Linked DNA regions of Homo sapiens: region 1 is linked to region 2. The links come from fine-mapping of genetic effects on gene expression. A gene starts in region 2. The other region holds a variant in brackets. All regions are shown on one strand. Distances are from middle to middle.

Region 1 (5,373 bases), 35 kb after region 2:
GAGGTCAGGAGTTCAAGACCAGCCTGGCCAACATGGTGAAACCCATCTCTACTAAAAAATACAAAAATTAGCCAGGCGTGGTGGTGCACGCCTGTAATCCCAGCTACTCAGGAGGCTGAGACACAAGAATTGCTTGAACCCAGGGGGCAGAGGTTGCAGTGAGCCAAGATCATGCCACTGCACTCCAGCCTGGGCAACAGAGCGAGACTCTGTCTCAAAAATAAAATAAAAATAAAAATTGACATCTGTCCTTCACATGTAAGTCTGAAATTCTCCCCAAACTGACTTTTTCTGTGCAGTGCAAAGTCCATGTGGTTATATGTGAATACCATTTACTAGTTAGGGATCAACAAACTATAGCCTACAGGCAAATGCAGGCCTTCATCTGTTTTTGTTTTGTTTGTAATAGACACTGGGTGTCACTATGTTGCCCAGTTCAAATAATCCTCCTGCCTCTGCCTCCCAAAGTGCTGGGATTATAGGTGTGAACCACCATGCCTGGTCTCCTTTGCCCGTTTTTGTACAGCCCAGTAGCTAATAATGGTTTCTGCATTTTAAATGGCTGAGAAAAACAAAAAGAAAGCTAATAACTCATGACCCATGAAAATTATATGAAATTTAAATCTCAATGCACATAAAGTTTTATTAGAACATATCCATGATCATTTGTTCACGTACAGTATTGTCTATAGCTGCTCTTACAATACCACAGCAGAGGTGACTAACTACAACAGACACTGTGAACACCACGTAAGGCTGTCTAGCCCTTACCAAAAAAGTTTGCCAATCCCTCAATAGTTCATCCTTTCCCCCCATGATCTGCAGTACTGTCTCTGTTGTAAATTAGAGTTTCATTTATTTGTGGGTCTGTTTTGGAAATTTGGCTCAATCCATTGGCCAATTTAACTATCTCTACACCAAAAATACACTATCTTGATCACAATAATAATTTATAATAAGCCTTAATAATAACACAAGTCTCCCTGCCTGATGTTCCTTCTTTGTTAATGAAATAGCTAACCCTGCCTCTTTACTTTTCCAAATACATTTCAGAATCTGGCTTCCAATTCCAGGAAAGACCTTGTTGGGATTTGGTTTGGAATCACATTGAATCCATAGGTGAGTTTTGAAAGAAACTGACATACTTATGCCATTGAGGCTTCCTATCCATTAATGATATATCTCTCTCCATTTATGAGGTCTTCTTTAATGTCCTTCAATATTTTCTCCATAGAGGTCTCACTCATTTGTTACCATAATCCTTGGTAAAACTCACCTACACGACCATCCAGGCACACCATTTCTTTGTAGAAAAAGTGTTAACTACTGATTTATCCTTTAATGAGCAAAGGACTGCTTAGATTTTTAAATATTTTCTTGGTTCAATTTTGATGACATTTTTCTTGGAATATATCAATTCCATCAAAATTTTCCAATTTTTTATAATTATTTATCAATATTTGTTTTTGCTGGTTTAATCTCTGCAGCATCTATAGTTGTGGTCTCTTTTTTACTCCTAAATCATTTGCTGTGCCTTCTCTCTTTTATATGCTTGTTTTTCTTCATTTATTTTTGCTCATATCTTTGTATTGTCTTCCCCTTTTTCTGTCTTCTTAAATTGGATAATTAACTCCTTAACTTGCACCTCTCCTTCCTTTCTTTCTTTTTCTCTTCTTCTTTTGCTTTCTTTCTCTTTTTCTTTTCTTTTCTCCAGGCTAGTATTGAATTCCTAGCCTCAAGCGATCCTCCCACCTCAGCCTTGCAAAGTGCTGGGATTACAGGCATAAGCCACCATGCCAAGTCACCTTTTCCTTTCTTAATGTAAGGATTTATGCTACAAAATTTTTTCTAAGCACCCCTTTAGCTGCATGGTCCAAATATTGGTATCTAGTATTTTTGTTATCATTCAGCTCTAAATATTATCTAACTCCCATTAGTTTTCTTTTTTTGACTCATAATGTATCTAGCAGTATATTCTAAAATTCCTGAAAGTATAGGGTTTTTCTGGTTATCTCTCGCTATTGATTCCTGAATTAATTGCTTTACGGTTAAAGAAGATTATTTCTACGTTACTAATCTAAAATTTGTTGGCTTGCTTTAAGACTCTCATAAATATTCCATGTGTGCAGTTGAAAAGAATCTGTATTTCACAATTATATTATATATGGTCATTAAGTAAGCTTGTTGGTAAATTTTCTATGTCTTTATAGACTTCTATGTTTCCTTCATTCATCAGTTCCTTAGAAAGGTGTATTTAGATCTCCCACTATGATGATGTTTGTCCTCTCCAAACTTCATGTTGAAACTTAATCCCAAATGTGGCAGTATTGAAAGATGGGTCTTTTGGCAGGGTGTGGCGGCTCATGCCTGTAATCCCAACACTTTGGGAGGCCGAGGCAGGCAGATCACCTGAGGTCAAGAGTTCAAGATTAGCCTGGCCAACTTGGTGAAACCCCATCTCTACTAAAAATAGAAAAATTAGCCAAGCATGGTGGCACACACCCATAATCCCAGCTACTCAGGAGGCTGAGGCAGGAGAATTGCTTGAACCCAGGAGGCAGAGGTTGCAGTAAGCCGAGATCCCACCACTACACTCCAGCCGGGGTGACAGAGTGAGACTCTATCTCAAAAAAAAAAGGAAGAAAGGAAAGGAAGGAGAGGAGAGGAGAGAAGAAAAGAGGAGAGGGGAGGGGAAAAGAAAAGAAAGAAAGAGAGAGCAAAAGAAAGAAAGAGAGAAAGAAAGGAAGAAACAAAGAAAGGAAAAGAAAGAAAGAAAGAAAGAGAAAGAAAGGAAGGAAGAAACAAAGAAAGG[AAAAG/A]AAAGAAAGAAAAAGAAAGAAAGGAGGAGGAAGGGAGGGAGGGAGGGGAAGGAAGAAAGAGAAAGAGAGAAAGAAAGATAGAAGAAAGACAGAGAGAGGAAGGAAGGAAGGAGGGAGGGAGAGAAGGAGGGAGGGGAAGGAAGGAAGGAAGAGAGAAAGAGAGAAAGAAAGGAAGAAACGAAAGAAAGAGAGAAAGAAAGGAAGAAAGAAAGAGAGGAAGGAAGGGAAGGAAGGAAGGAAAAGAGAGAAAGAACAGAGAAAGAGGAAGAAAGAAAGAGAGAAAGAGAGGGAGGGAGGAAGGAAGGAAAAGAGAAAGAAGAAAAAGAAGAAAAGAAAGACAGGAAGGAAAGAAAGAAAAGAAAAGGAAGGAAGGAAAGAAAGGAAGGAGGGAAAGAAAAAGAAGAAAGAAAAAGAAGAAAGAAAAAATAAAGAGCCTTTAATTGGTGATTGGATCATAAAGGCTCCACCGTCATGAATGGATTAACCCATTCATGGATTAATGAGTTAATGAATTAGTGGTTTATCACAGGAATGGGACTGGTGGTTTTATAAAAAGAGGAAGAGAGAACTGAGCTAACACACTCAGCCTCCTCACTATGGGATGCCCTGTGCTGCCTCCAGACTCTGTAGAGAGTCCCCACCAGCAAGAAGGCCCTCACCGGATGCACCCCCTTAACCTTGGACTTCTCAGCCTCCAGATCTATAAGAAGTCAAATCATCTCTCATTAATTACCCACTTTCAGGTATTCTGTTATAAACAGCAGATGATGAATTCCTCTTTGCAATCAGTCAAAAATTTCATTATTTTGAGACTTATTAAATGCAAGCAAGTTATATATTTCTAGTGAATTAAAACTTTTATCAGAATTTTTTTGTCCTCTGTCTAGTAATAACTTGCTTTAAAGCCTATATTTTCTTTTTCTTTTTTTTTTTTTTTTTTTTTTTTGAGACAGAGTCTCACTCTGTTGCCCAGGCTGGAGTGCAGTGGCGCGATCTCGGCTCATTTCCATTTCAGTCTTTGTGTGTGTGTGTGTGTGTGTGTGTGTGTGTGTGTGTGTGTGTGTGTGTGTGTGTGTGTGTGTGTGTGTGTGTATTTTTTTAGAGACAGTCTCGCTTTGTTGCCCAAGCTGTTCTCTAACTCCTAGACTCAAGGGGTCTTCCTGCCTCAGCCTCCCAACTAGCTGGGATTACAGGCAGACACCACTGTACCGATTTTATTTATATTTTATCTGTTTTTATATTTTGAATGTATCAGCTGTAAACTGTATTCCCTGGATTTGTTTTTTAATCCAGTGTAATGTTTGCCTTTTACTTTGCAAATTTAGTCCACTTAGGATTACTTATATATTTGGAATTAGTTCCTCCATTCTATTTTTTTATTTCTATACATGTCATCTGTTTTATGTAATTTTTTTCTCATTTATTGTGTGGTTTGGTTTTGGGTTTTTTTTGTTTTGCTTTGTTGTTGTTTTTAATTGAACCAGGTGTTTTTGTTTTGCCTTCTTGTGTTTGTTTTTCTCATTCCTTTTTCCCCCATAATTAGTTTGGAGGTTTACATTCCATGTGTCCCCCTCACCTTATACCATGTGAGAGAGCGAGCTTCCAAAGACCTACTGCTTGTTGACCTGTGTCCCTTAAGTTTGGGGAGCTCGAGAACTGGCATTAAGTGCTACATCTAAAAAGCCGGGGCAAAAAAAAAAAAAAAGGAAACTGTACTGAAAGAAAATGATTATTCTATCAACACTAGGACATGAATGGGCAGGTGTTTACCCTACACCAGAAGTGGACCCGGCAGGAAGGAGCTGGCATGGAGCCCTCTGTAAATCCTGCCCAGGCCTCCAAAAGACAGAATTGTCCCCAGACAACCTGGAGATGAAGGAAACATTCACAAGCAAGTAGGGAAGCATCGCCCTGTGGAAGGAAAGACCGTCGGCCCCAGGGGAGTACATCTGAGGAATACTCAGAAAAAAACCCTTCAGAAAAATGGTCACTTTGAACACCTGCCAAGCCCAGCAAGCAACAGCTGCAAGACCTCAAATGACCAGTCACACAACATGGTACCTTCTCCCAGCCTGACCCGTAAGGGCTCAGCAGCAGGGACGTCAACCATGAGCCCAGCCACATCCCTAATCCACTAAGCTCTCAGGCAACATTTGCACCATGTGACCCACCATCAGGCATAGGCGATAGGTCTAGTGGAGATCACCTGACCCAAAGGTAGCCAATGGGAAAGTTGAGTTATCTGGCGAACTGAGCCAATCAGATTCTCTCCTGGAGGTGCCACTGGGAGTGTGGACCCACAGACAGCGGGGAAAGAATCTGAGCCAATGTGGGAGGAGAGGAGCAGGCAGGAAGGTGGGTCAGAGACTTGGGGATCATGGCAAGCAGAAGCAGTGAGGAAGCAGGAGTGCCAAGGAGATGGAAGCAACAAGGCAAAGGAAAGACGTGTAGAGCAAAGGAAAATAAGGGAAATTTTAGTAAGATTGGCAAGCATCTATACTAAATTTCCTTATAGCCGAGGACTTTTTTTTTTTCAACTCAGCTGAACATCTACAGA
Region 2 (5,373 bases):
GCTACATGGAAGAAACTAAGAAGAAACTAATATGGGGGGCAGTGATTGTGCACAGCTTCCATTGTTAAAGAAAAAATTATCTAATGATACAAGCTTGATATCCACTGCACTGGGATTTTGCAGCAAGAGAGAGAGATGGGGCTCAAACTTGAACACAGCACGGGCAAGTGGGAATTCATAGGCAAGGAGAAGCATACAGGTCAGTGGATGCAAAATTACAAAGAGGAAACCTCAGGGGCAAGAGAGATTCTGGTTAAACCACACTAACAGGATTCTTGCTGAAGACAGGCCGGGGTGATCAGACATCACCTGGAGGACAGTGAGAAGGATGAACCCGGTCAGATATTGAGGGTGGGAAGTTCCTGCTAAACTGACTTGGCAGGGTCCTTTGCTAAAATTAGATTTTACAAGGAAGTACAGATGTGCCTAGGAAGAGGTTTGGGAACCTGACTAAAATGTGGTCACACAGAGAATCTTTGCCACCATGCCCTCTCCAGCCAGGCCAGTCTCCCACCACATCTGTGTTCACCTGCCCCAAAGCTCTCCCAACCCCGTCATGTAGGGGTTTCTACGGAGGCTGCATAATGTAGACATTACTGATTAAATAATGGTGATCAGTCCCCAACCTGAAGTTATCCAGCTCTCCCTCCTCAACCAAGAGCCACCTCATTAGCATAAACTCAGATTTGTTTGACAGAGACTCCTTCTGAATAACATGACATCCTATCACTCAGGAAATTCCAAGGGTCTTAGGACCTCTGTGTCTGGAACTGGGGTCAAAGACCAAAAATATATTTTTTTATCATGCCACATAAGGCATAAATAAACTTTTATTATGCTACAAGGCATAAATTTATTTAAAAATAAAAATTTTTATTATGCCACAAGGCAAAAACCCAGACTCTGGGATTGTTGAATGCAGACTCTTGTGGGGGCCCCCTTAAAGAGTTTTGTGATCCTAAATATTTCAAAATGGAGTCACTTACGACAAGTGACTCAGCCCACAGTGAAACTGCTGAACCCTCAAAATGATAAACATAGGTATAAAGGACTGAGGTAATAAGATAACATCTGCTGTGGCCAGACACCCCCAAGACCTGATGAGAAACTGAAACCAAAAGGTGGCTGAGATAATGACCATGGACACTCCTGCAGAGGGCCATAAAAACAGCAAAGAAACTGACCACGGCAAGACACCTGTAGAAGCTCTGCCCGAGAAAGCTCTGAGGCTTCCTCATGATATCCACAGCGGTCCCTGGAAGCTCTGCCCAAACACAGCAACATCGTTCAACAGTGTTTTGAGTGAAACCCAGAGGCATGCTAACCTAAACAACAGAAATGGGGGTTTTTTGTTTTGTTTTGCTTTGAGACATGGTTTCACTCCAGTTGCCCAGGCTAGACTGCAGTGGAGCAATCTCAGCTGACTGCAGCCTGACTTCTGGGTTCAGGCGATCCTCCCATCTCCGCCTCCCAAGTAGCTGAGAGTACAGGCACATGCCACCATGCCCGGCTAATTTTTTTTTCTGTATTTTTAGCAGAGACGGGGTCTCGCCATGTTGGCCAGGCTGGTCTTGAACTCGTGGGCTCAAGTGATCCACCTGTCTAGGCCTCTGGTTGGGTGTGAAAATATGGCCCAGTTCTGGCCAATGGAGAAGGGAACAGGTCATCTGGGGAACTGTGGGAAAGACTTAACTCCCTGAAAAAAAGACAAATGAGAATTATCTTTCCCTCCATCTTTTGGGCATAGCCAGGTAAAAATGGGCCACTCAAGGCTGCTACAGCCATGGGAGTCCCTGCAGGGCAACAGTGCAGACCCAGGACCAGTGCAATGGAGACAGCCTGCTGAGTCCTTGGTGACCTTGGTGAGCCACTAAACCCAACCTGAGTCACCCTCTTCCTGCCTTTCTGTTACCGAGACAATGGGTGTCCAGGCTGTTGAAGCCCTTTTGAGTTTAGTTCTGCTTCTTGCACCCAAATGCATTTTAATGGGGCCATGAGCTCCCAGGCTCCACATGGTCTAAGGTACCCCTCACCTCCAGGGCATCCCCATGGAATGAAACACCCCCTCTGGCCTTCTCCCAAGACTTCTGGCCCAATATTTTCTGGGTGTCTTTACAAGACAATGTCCTATGGGGTGCACTGGGGATTGACATCTCCCTGCCTCCGAATGCCTCCCCTTCCTGGAGTAGGAAGAGCTGCCCAGGGTTCTTTTTAGAAGAGACCTTTATTTTGGCCAGGTGCGGTGGCTCACACCTGTAATCCCAGCATTTTGGGAGACCGACGGGGAGGCAGATCACAAGGTCAAGAGATCGAGACCATCCTGGCCAACATGGTGAAACCCCGTCTCTACTAAATATGGAAAAATGAGCCAGGCATGGCAGCAGGTGCCTGTAATCCCAGCTACCTGGGAGGCTGAGGCAGGAGAATCACTTGAACCCGGGAGGCAGAGGTTGCAATGAGCCGAGATCGCACCATTGCACTCCAGTCTGGGTGACAAGAGCGAAACTCTGTCTCAAAAAAACAAACAAACAAACAAACAAACAAACAAAAAAGAAAAAAAAAGAAAAGACCTTTATTTCTCAAGCAAGGGCAGAAATTCAGGGCTCCCCTTCGACTCTGGCTGCTCCCAAGGTGGCTTTAAAGCACCAATGAGTCCATGGCTTGTGTAAGAAATGATTAGTCCTTCCATCTAGAGAAATAGCTCCTTTTTAAACAGTTGTCTCTTTTAAACAGTGTTTAGTATTTAAGTGAGGTTGAAACAGTGTCAAAAGGAAAGTGAAAGTGAAATTCTCTCCTTCAGCATAAAAGCTGATCCACAAACAAGAGGAGCACCAGACCTCCTCTTGGCTTCGAGATGGCTTCGGTAAGTTTCCCAGGGCTTTGCATTACTGACTCTACAGCAGTTGGGCAGCTCCCCCTAGGAAAGGCCTCAGTCCAGGCTCCTGGCCTTGGGCACACAGCTCCAGAGCTCGTCTTTAGAAGGCTGTCATGGAAAACTGTATTTGTCTTTTAAAAGTGCATCTGCCCAGCTGGACAGGGAGTCCTCTGGGCAGAGTCCACCTCCTCTGCGTAACTGGCACAGTGCGGGGAGCCCGGGACTCCCATGTAGTAGAGAGCTGTGGGGTGCCGGGTGTCAAATCTACCTCAGCCTGAGGAGAAGCCAGAGTGTGGGCAGGTGGGGGACTCTGGGTTGTGGGAAGCAAGCAAATCCCAACATCGTCTGCTTCTGCTGTGACTGGGGCTCAGTCCCTTCTCGGCCCCAAACGATGCTTTCTCTCTCCTCGTTCCTCTGTGGCATCATCCAGCCTTCTAAGGTGCATTCTAATCTCAGCAGCTTTCTGAAAACTGAAATTTCTCCTCCTATCAGCCCAGATGTACCGATTGGCAGAAGCTCTAGGGAGAGCAGGCTGAGCTCGGTGGTGTGTGACTAAAAAGGAACAGCGGGGCTCAGGCTATTACTAGAAACAAAACCATTCCGGGAAGGAGTCCTGCAAATTCTGGAGGGCAGCCCACTCCAACAGCACCACCTGATCCTGGGGAAGGGCTTTACTGCTGCCAAAACAAATCAGGGCTTTTAACAGGGAGCCCAGGCCAAAGCTCATATCTCACTGGCCACCAGCTGAGGTTGCCAGTACCTTGACTGTGGTTTTAGACATTCAGCATTGCAGTTAAAAGCCCCTCTCTCTCCCCACATGGAAACCATCTCCTGTGGTGCCCTGACATACAGAGGAGGAGCTGGGAGGGAGTCCTGGCCCTGCTCCTTTCTCCTCCCTCTTCCTTGTCTATTTCCTTGCCCCATTCTACGCCAGGCCCTTCACTGGGTCCTGGAGGTGCAGGGAGGGAGGAGCACACAGGATCCTGCCTGCCTGGAGCTCACAGCCCAGAGGGGCACAGGGAGGCACAGGGAATTGCAGCTCAACTTGACCCCTGCAGAGAGCAGCAGAGGCCCCCGGGGACCCAGGTCCTAGGAGTGGGGTGGCGGGTCAGCTGAGCCAGGCTGGGGCCATCAGGGCAGCTTCTCAGGTGAGGGGGTTTGAGGGAGGGGAAGAGGAAGAGTGGCTGCAGGGAAGTGATGGAGGCAGGGAGAACCAGATGTGCAGAGCAGCAGAGACCAGAGCCAGGGCAGTAGTGAGGGGCTGGGATGTCACTCAGTGGGCCTGTGGGTGCAGAGCCCAGGGAGGGAGAGGAGGGTGAGGAAGGGCCAGTCAGGAAGGGCCTGGGAGCTGCCCACAGGGTGTGTCCTGGGCCCTGAGGTCAGAGGACGGTCATGGCCAGATGTGCCCTTGGGAAGGCCACCATGGGTTCTGAGGAGTTGGATATGGAGTGGCAGGGACAGGAGGCAGGGGCTGGTCAGGGGGTTGTGGGGGTCACAGAGGCAGGCATGGGGCTGCCTGAACCAAGTCAGTGGATGGGATATTGACAAGCACACCAACAAGGAGAAGCTTCCGGAGTCCACATTGATTGGTTTTAGTGACTGGATATTGGCATGAGGAAGAGGGCAAAGGAGAGCAGACCCCAGGTCTATGATGGGACATCCTGGGATGAGGGAGGAGGAGGCTGTCACCCACTGAGGACAGGGACAGAGAGGGTGAAAATGGAAAAATCCTCCAGTCATGAGGCTGCTATGCCCTGGGGCAGGACATGGAGAAGTGGGAAGGAGGTGAGGAAGGGGAAGAAGGTGGCCAAGACAGGAACCAGGGTGAGGGGTGTGCAGGGAAGAACCAGCTCGGCCTCCTTCCAGCTGAGTGTTCTCAGGAAAGCCCTGCCACCTCTCTGATCCTCAGTTTCCCCATCTGTGCAATGGGATGATCATGCCTTCCCCTGGGGCTGTGGAGATGGTGCAGTTATTGTAGGACAAGTTCCCACAGAGGCCTGTTCTGTGAGTGCAGAGCCCCCTCAGTGCTGGGAGCTGGGGGGCCCCACAAGACCCCACTCAGGTCCCAGCAGGATGCTGTGAGCTCCTGTCTCCCAGGGTGTCATCTCCAAGAGATAGGTGTCCTGAGGCTGGATGGGGCAAGGTCTGAGGAGGAGGTGGCTCTTGGGGCCATGGAGAGGCACAGGGCAGGAGTGATGAGGAACTGAGGGTCAGTCTGCAGAGGGCGGAGAGCTCAAGACTCACCTTCCCAGCCTTGCTCCTGGCCTCAGTGAAGGTGCTGGTTCATGCAGGCTCTTGAGTCGGCCTACTGAGGAGCATGTGTACAATGCACACATGCACACACATCTGCATCCTCAGCATGCACACACACAGCACACACATGTCACACATGCGCCCAGACGGTCCTTCTGTCTCCCATCCCACAAGATCATTCTCCAGGCTTCCAGCCCCCAGTGCCCCCACTGAGAAGAGCCTCTGAAAGTGACAGCAGGGCTGAG

Evidence for each region. PIP is the estimated chance that this variant, and not a neighbour inherited with it, causes the effect.
Region 1: its variant is the best candidate, but not a certain one, in a credible set for the expression of PLAAT4 in whole blood (INTERVAL, PIP 0.60).

Annotation. Positions count from the first base shown.
Region 1 is chr11:63,569,124-63,574,496 of GRCh38, forward strand. PLAAT3 (phospholipase A and acyltransferase 3) reads right to left here. Exons shown (of 5, transcript NM_001128203.2): 5 at 5,339-5,373. Among named protein-coding and RNA genes, the nearest start is that of PLAAT2, 8.4 kb to the left of the region's middle. The variant AAAAG/A (reference allele first, on the strand shown) is at 2,813.
Region 2 is chr11:63,534,015-63,539,387 of GRCh38, forward strand. PLAAT4 (phospholipase A and acyltransferase 4) reads left to right here and starts at 2,794. Exons shown (of 4, transcript NM_004585.5): 1 at 2,794-2,863. The coding sequence starts at 2,855. RefSeq lists enhancers at 946-1,035, 2,693-2,742.